2 separate regions of the Homo sapiens genome follow, and region 2 is linked to region 1. The links come from fine-mapping of genetic effects on gene expression. A gene starts in region 1. The other region holds a variant in brackets. All regions are shown on one strand. Distances are from middle to middle.

Region 1 (4,401 bases):
GCTGCCAGTCATATAGAAGTATAGCATGTACAATTATGTACAGTATATAATACTTGATAATGATAATAAATAGCTATGTTACTGGCTTATGTATTTATTATATGTACCTTTTAAATTATTTTTGAGTGTACTCCTTCTACTTGTATTTTTTAAAAAGTTAACTGTAAAACAGCCTCAGGAAGGTCTTTCAGCAGATATTCCAGAAAAAGGCATTGCTACCACAGAAGACAGCTCCATGCATGTTACTGCCCCTGAGGACCTTTCAGTAACAAAAGACATACAGGTGGAAGACAGTGATATCACATATCTTGATTCTGTGTAGGTCTATGCTAATATGTGTGTTTGTGTCTTCATTTTTAGCAAAAAAATTAAAACTTTTAAAAACGGGACAAAAGCTTATCGAATAAGGATATAAAGACAAAAACTATTTGTACACACTGTACAATATGTGTTTTAAGCTGCGTTATTACAAAACTCAAAAAGTTTTTTAAAACTTAGAAGTTTAAAAAGTAAAAATGTTACAGAAAGCTAAGGGTAATTTACTATTGAAGGAAGAAAAATATTTCTTATAATAGCATAGCCTAAATGTAGTGTTTATAAAGTCTACAGTAGTGTATAGTAATATCCTAGGCCTTCACACTCTCTCACTTACTCACCCAGAGCAACTTCCAGTCCTGTAAGCTCCATTCATGGTAAGTGTTCCATACAGGTATACCATTTTTTATCTTTTATACCACATTTTTACTATACCTTTTCTATGCTTAGATACACAAATACTTACCATTGTGTTACAACTGACTACAGTATTCAGAAAAGTAGCATACTGAACAGGTTTGTAGACTAGGAGCAATCGGCTATATACCATCTAGCCTAGGCCTGTAGTAGGTGATACCATCTAGGTTTGTGTAAGTGCACTCTATGATGTTCACACAATGACGAAATTGCTTGATGAGACATTCCTCAGAATATATTTAATAAATTGCTTAATGAGGCATTCCTCAGAATAAATCCCCATTGTTAAGTAATGCATTTTGCTAGGTGTTATGGAAAATTCCAGACTGAAAAAACTAGGGTGTCATCCCTCGAAGACTGCAGTCCAGGACAAGACACACACACATGATAATAACTCTTTTGAAAGGCAAATTGTCTTAATTGCTGTGCTAAAAGTATAAACTACTGTATAGAGAAAGAAAATATTAATTGCAACTAATGGCTAAGAAAAGACCTCTTGAAAGACATGGGGTCTGACCAACCCCACAAGAAGCTATGAGGAGAGTTGCAATCCAGACAAAGGGAAGGTTGACTCAACAACCCCTTTCCATGGGAGGAACAGGCCTCCCATGTGGCCGGGCCTCTGGAGCTTGGCAAGCGTATGCTGTGGAATTTAAGACCCATGGCTGAGTGGAGATCATTGGGAAGACTCTGGGATTTAGATTACAGAGTTTGGGAGTGTATGGATGCTTTGCCCCATAGTTTATCAGGATTATTTCAATCTTAAACAACCAGGGCTGTGGTTTTTGACCTTCTCTGTAGAAAGACACATTTGCATGTATATCATAAGGTATCCCGATCCCTCTTTCATTTGTTTTATTTCTTTAATCTACCTAAATTAAGACCTGAAAACTCAAGATCTTCCAAGTTATGAGCCCCATAAGAACCCATGGCTTCCAGGCGGAGGGGAAAGATACCACCTTTTCTATAAACTGAGACAAGATGGCAAAAGAATTGCCTAGAAGCCTAGTCCAGGTGCTGTTTTCTCAGCTACTCAAAGAGATCCTTCTTGCTCCTTTAGGAAAGGGGGATTCCTAGACCTCTCCAAACCTCAATCACCCTGGGATGCACAGATGCCAAGGGCTCGGGTGTAACCCTTAAAATCCCCGCTTCCCGGGGGTCAGCGGCACCATCAGCAGCACCGCAGTATAGAAGTTCCGGTCCTTCCAGCTGCTGGGATTCTCAGCTTGAACTCTTCCAGGAAACAAGTTCTTTTCCGCTTCTCTTGCGAAATCCAGCAGACCGTCCCGCCCTTCTCTGGCTTCTTATAGCAGCGAGAGCCACAAGCCACAGCGCTGAGCTGCAGGCGCGGCGAAACTTCCCTCTACCCGCCCGGCCCGCGGCGCGCACCGTTGGCGCTGGACGCTTCCTCCTTGGAAGCGCCTCTCCCTCAGGTGGGTCACTTTTCGCCACAAGGCTCCCGTCCCTTATCTGCTTCAGCTCACCTCCAGTCCCTGCTGCTAGGACCCCACTCCCCAGCCCATCGCACTGAAGAACAGGTGCTTGCAAACTCCCCGCCGCGCCCCGGCATCACTTTAGAGGAAAGTCACCTGAGGCTGCTCCGCGATTCAGCAAGCTTCTAACTTCCTGGAGTTTAAGGCTCATCCCTACCCCAGGGTGCAGACAAGCCCAAAGGGGGAAAATTAAGGGGTTAGATTCTTCTCTGCATCTTACTTCTGGATTGGCGCACTCTTGGGGCGCCCATCAAAAAGTAGGCTGGAAGAATGTGGCTTTAGCAGTCAGTCTCCAAGGTCTCAGATCCGAGGCTGCTTCTTGACCAGGCACTAAAAATTTGTCCTGATACCTGCAACCACTTCCATTTTTTTATCTTGATTTAAATTTCCTCTTGCAATTTAAAGGTTATTTTTCTGGAGGAAGATTGTTCAGAATATAATTTATTGTGAAGAGTAAATAAAGCCTCAGTTCCGTTTGTTTGTCCAGAGACAGAATTTTATTATTCTTTTTCCCACCTCTAGATGGTAATTTAGGAACTTTCTTTAAAAGATTGGTGTACTGAGGCTGGGTACGGTGGCTCAAGCCTGTTATCCCAACACTTTGGGAGGCCAAGGCCGATGGATCACTTGAGGTCAGGAGTTCGAGACCAGCCTGGCCAACATAGTGCAACCCAGTCTCTACTAAAAATACAAAAATTAGCCAGGCGTGGTGGCAGGTGCCTGTAATCCCAGCTACACAGGAGGCTGAGACAGGAAAATCACTTGAACCTGGGAGGTGGAGGTTGCAGTGAGCTGAGAAAGTGAATTGGATAGAGAATGGGGGAGGGGAGGAAGAATACTATTCCTAGTTCTATAATAACTAGAACCTCATTATCTCAGCCTCAGTTTCCACAGATGTAAAATAAAAGGCTGGCTACTGGGCCAGATGATCCAGAAAGTTCAACTCTAACAAGGTGAAAAGCCGTGACTAAAGATGCCTGCAAGTTTGAAATACATAGAAAATCTCCTTAATGCTACAACTATAATTCAGTGGTTACTTTTTTCATAATAATGCATGTTCCATTTTTATAAGGAAACTCTCCAGTTGTCGGGGGAAGAGTCTCTTCCCACAGGAGCATCTTAAAGTTCTGCCACATTTATCATTCAGAGAATACTCTCAGCTTTCAAAACCATTCTTCAGCCTTGCTATGTGAGAATGTCCTATTCCCTACAAATGGCAGTCATATAAATGTCACTCACATGAGAGAACATTTTTTTTTTCTGATACAGTAGGTATAATTTTGTAAAATGGCACATTTATTTGAAGCAGTAACTTTTCTGAGATATGGCCTTTTGCAAGGTCCCAAGTTTTTCAGAATGCTGTGATTTAGCACAATATGAGATTTGACCTGCATGTATTCTACCTGCATGGCAAACACTGCCAACCCAGAAAACAGGATGAGACACTTCCTATTTATCAGGCTCCAAGGCTGTAAAGTAAATGGTACATGTGTACAGAGAAATTGGGTCATAGCAGTTTTTCTATTTGGTAACGTTTACAGTTCCACTGAGGTTCACGTTGTTCACATTGTTGAAGTTCACATTGTTCAGAAACCAGGTGTACAAGGCCTGGCCCCTAGCTGAAGAACAATTTCCAGACTTCTGCCTTACTAAAGCTCGCTAACTGTTGTTTAGAAGGAACTAAACAGACTTTTTAAGATTGTTAATAAATTAAAAACCCCAGGCCTTGCACTATGTGTGAACAATTTTAAGAAAAATAAGGTCATTTGTTATGGAATTTTATATTCAAAGAAACTTGGAGTGGTCACTCTGCATTACTTTGTCTCTTGAAGGACTTCCCCTGAATCACCCTACTATTATTAATACTGTTATTAAAAGGATATAAATTCTCCTTTTAAAGGCTGGGTAGCTGATTCTGTTGTCACTCTCAGGAACACATTCCACTGTTTTAGGATCCTTACCACCTAGTTCTCTTCATAATTAATTTAGACGTGTTTATCAAATGCTACTTAAAAATCATTTTTTTTTTGGAAAATCTTAGGAAATCTGATAAGTTGCTAGCAAACACACACACACACACACACACACACAACAGCAGCAACACAGTAGTCCTTCAAAACCTGAAGATTGGGCACTTTGCTAGGGCACTTTGTAGCTAGTTTTTTCTGGGTTGTCC
Region 2 (4,401 bases), 37 kb after region 1:
TTGGCAGTGCCAACTACAACTACTACACCAACCAGCTGGAAACTATACAAAGAGTATGAACAAAGTTCACAGGAGAAACAAGGCTCTGCAACATATGAAAATATATTCTACTTCATTCATAATGAGACGCATGAAAATTGTAACTGTATCAATACCATTTCTCACCTAGTAGATGGGCAAAAATCCAAATGTTTGAGCACACATTCTGTGGGTGAGGCTGTGGAAACGTAGGTTCACATACATTGCTCTTGGATATGCAGATTAGGACCGCTCCTGTGGAGAGCAGTTAGGGAATATCTTTCAAAATTAAAAAATGCAGAGTTAAGTTTTGATCCAGGAGTCTCACTCCTGAGAATTTATGCTATAGATATGCCTACAAGCATTTGAGATGAAAAAGAAGCATTGCTATTTGTTTTTCTTGTTTTTCATGAATAACATTGTAAAAGTAGAATATGGGCAGTGATTCAAGCATTCATCTTTGGGACTGGTTAAGGAAACTATGATGCTTTCACAGAATGAAATTCTATGCAGCTGTTTAAAACAAACCAAGACACCTTCTTTCACATATATGGAAAGATGTCCAAAATATACTGTTCAGTTTTTAAAAAGGTACAAAATAACATATATAGTATGATTCCTTTTGCATATGTGTATTTGCTTTTAATTGCCTAAAGAAACTCTCAGAAGGATTCAAAAGATCCATACCAAACAAGATGGGAGAACAGAGGAGTAGTGACAGGAGTAGAAGCACTGTAGACCTTTTCATATCATTTTGGTTTTTAAATTACATGAGTAGGTTACCTAATTATTAAAATAAATTTAATTTAAAAGGTAATGGGGGATAGGAAGAAATTTGTTAAAAGATACAAAATTACAGCTAGATAGGAAGATTAAGTTGTAGTGTTCTATAGCTCTGTAGGATGACTACAGTTAACAATAATATATATTCTAAATAGCTAGAAGGAGGATATTGAATGTTCTCAACAGAAAGAAATGATAAATGCTTAAGATGATGGATATACTAATTACCCTAATCTGATCACTGTATATTTTGTGTATTGCAATGTCACTATGTACCCCATAAATATGTATAATTATCGTGTGTCAATTAAAAATTTTTAATTAAAAAATTATAAACAAAAAATTTTTTAAAGTAATTGATTGCATATCCCTGCTAAATCTTATCTTACGCTAAACACCAGCACATTCACTGTTTTCTCTTGTATAAAAATTTCTAAATCTTTCATCTTTCTGGTGCCTCTTGTTCAGATCTACAAACATTTCAATGTTCCTTTTAAAACACAGTTCCCTAAACCAAAAACATGATATTTTTCCCTTCTTTCACATTCTGTAATTAAAATAGTATTTAAATTCCTAGTAGACATTTTAGGAATATTCAACAACAAAAAGTTGTCCATTATTTCATCTGTATTGGCATTTTTCCCCATATGAAAAAGACTTAAAATACTTTAATATAAAATAAATTTTCAATAAAAATAGTTTTTATAAAACTGGCTAAAAATAGCAAGTAGGCATCAAAAATATAACTCCAGTTGAGGTGCAGGTTTAGAGTATAACGTGATTGTTGCTTCTGTTATTCTAACTTGTGAGTCTCTATTAATTTAGTGTACATGTTCACTGTAAATTTTTATAGTCGCAAAATTTCAGGATCACATCAAATAATATGCCTAATTTCTTTTCACATAAAGCATTAATTCCAGTCTCTCCATAGTCTGCCCCTCTAGCCCCATCTCTGCCCCCTTCCACCACCAAACCATCCACCCTACACTGATTACCATTAATATTTTTAAACCTAAGTACAAAGCAAAAATATCTTGCACTATCTGCACTGTCTTTGCAATAATGCTATAAATCTAAAATTATTTTAAAATACTATGACCCTAACATTGTTCTAAAATAAAAGGTTTACTTAAAAAAAAGCACTCACCATATTCTTATTAAAGTTTATCTCATATAAATTAACCTATCCTTCAGCATAGAAAATTGTTTTAAATATTAATTCCCTTTTCCAAAAGATATGCTCTACACATATTTCCTAAACATGGCCTCCATGTCTTTATTTTAGTTTTTGATAGGAAATACAGAAACGTTATCCATAACCTCCAACTCCAACTATAGTGTTTTTTAGACTACATGAAGCCTAGAGATTATCTAATAGTATACATTCATTTCACAGATGTGGAAACTGAACCCAAGAGGGTGAAGTAATTTCTGCAAGGTCACATAGCTACATTGCAACAAAGCAGAATTGGACCACAGATGACTGATTTTCAGGCTAGGGTTTTTTCCGATCCTTTTGAAATCAGGTGATTAAGTTGAAAACAAGCTGGTTGTAGATCCAAAAAAAAATGGGGGTCAAAAGGGCTGATCCGAAACAGGTATATCCAGTGACAATTTTGGACTTTTCAGTCTGTGATGAGTACTTTGCCTTTAAAAAACATGACAGAGACTAAAGAAACAGAATTATCTAGTGGTATATTTAGGCTGACTGTGATTATTGGAATTCTAAAGAATGATACACAACATTTTCCCCTTCTTTAACGTTCTCTCATTAAAATAATATTTAAAGTCTTAGTAAACATTTTAGGAATATTCAACAACAAAAAGTTGTCCATTATTTCATCTCTGTTGGAATTCTTCCCCATATGAAGAAGACTGTTAAAACTGCTTTAATATAAAATAATTTTACAATAAAAATAGTTTTTATAAAACTGGCTAAAAATACCAAGTAGAC[A/G]TCAGTGGCAGTCATGGAAGATGACCTACTCAGATGTTCCTTCAAGAGAACCTGCTGCAAGGAAACATAACAAATAAACAACTTTCAACTGGCCCACATTATTGATAAGCACCACGTTATTCACATGATCCACATTGCCCTTGGGCTGCTCCCAGGCAATGACCATGCATAACAGAGATACTAGAACAAAGCCATCATTGCCTCAAAAGAGCTTCCTCTAATGGATCATTGCCTCATATGAGCTTCCTCTAATGGATCATTGCCTCATATGAGCTTCCTCTAATGGGCAGCATTTGCTTGGATGTTCCCACTGGGCCAGCCAAGACCTTTTCACATCTGCACTATGATCTGGATCTCCTCCTATCCAATGTTTCCCTTGCCTTCATCTTTTGCACGTGTAAGACCAGCATTGCAATATGAAGGCTCCCTCCTCCTTTATCCTTTAAGTCATTTCTTCCAATAAATCTCCCATCCTATCTTGGTACCTGCTTCTTGGAGAACCTAACTGACAAAGCATCACAGGCAGAAAAGCAGCAAAATAAATAACTTTTGTTAATAACATTAGATAATAATTATGACATTTATTAACCCTTTCACTCAAATATAATCCTCAACAGATAGTTTCGCCAATTGTTATGTCCTAAGATGTTAAGCATAAATAAGTGACAAATGTACATCACAGAGTGTGTTAGGGAAGCATATCTCTTTTTCCAAGTTCCAATCCCCTACCTATGAAAGAGAAGAAAATATGTGATTCTTAAGGTCTAAAAATACATACGAAAGAAAAAAATGCATTTCTGTTTCACTGAACATTATGAAGCTGCTAGTCTCAGAGAAGGGCTAAACATGGTAAAGAGATAGTGAAGAAAAGATGCTTGGGGAGCAAAAGTTGAAAATGGCTGAATCTGAGAAAAAGGTATGGATTTAATCCCTCCACCACCCTGAATCTGAGGCAGAGGAACGAGGATTGCAGAATGAAGTATCCCAAATGCTGAGAGATGACTCATTACTTTAGTAAGACACAAAGCTTTTAGTAAGAATCTTCAGTCAATACAGTAAAGTTCTCTGAGAAACACTTCAAAGGCCATGCAAAGCAAAGTGACTACATCGACCCAACTCTTAACAGCAGTATCATGTGGCCAGAAGAGCCAGAATAAAGATGTCAACCACCACAGGCACAGACCAGAACCCTCCCCCACCTTCTAGCCCTAATCAATTTCTGCACCCTGATTTGAGAGAAGGATGAGAGAAAAAAAGACACAAAAATTAACTTAAATTGAATGTGATATTGGCTAGGTGCACAGTAGCTCCACAAAAAGTTATTCTGACTTACAAAATTAAAAAATTGTAGCATTCCTTATACCTAGGAGTTGTGCCACAAGTTTATAGAAGAAAAGAAAATAAGAATTAACAAATGCCAAGAAAGAATTAGGAGGGTCAAAGAGCAAACAATAAGAAATAAGAACTATACTTAAGGAAACACACAAATAGATGCCACAAGTGCAGAGTAAGGAAAATGGAGAATGGAAGATGGAGAGTAGTAAGTAACGAAGAATGGAAGATGGAGAATAGTAAGTAATGGAAAATGGAGAATAGTAAGGAAAACGGAGAATGGAAGATGGAGAATAGTAAGTAATGGAAAATGG

Evidence for each region. PIP is the estimated chance that this variant, and not a neighbour inherited with it, causes the effect. A credible set is the group of variants that fine-mapping cannot tell apart.
Region 2: its variant is the best candidate, but not a certain one, in a credible set for the expression of STEAP4 in blood mononuclear cells (TOPMed, PIP 0.90).

Annotation. Positions count from the first base shown.
Region 1 is chr7:88,304,556-88,308,956 of GRCh38, reverse strand. STEAP4 (STEAP4 metalloreductase) reads left to right here and starts at 2,063. Exons shown (of 5, transcript NM_024636.4): 1 at 2,063-2,165. The region is part of intron 1 of LOC124901692 (a long non-coding RNA gene); the gene reads right to left.
Region 2 is chr7:88,267,635-88,272,035 of GRCh38, reverse strand. STEAP4 (STEAP4 metalloreductase) reads left to right here. Exons shown (of 5, transcript NM_024636.4): 5 at 1-1,144. Among named protein-coding and RNA genes, the nearest start is that of STEAP4, 37 kb to the left of the region's middle. The variant A/G (reference allele first, on the strand shown) is at 2,756.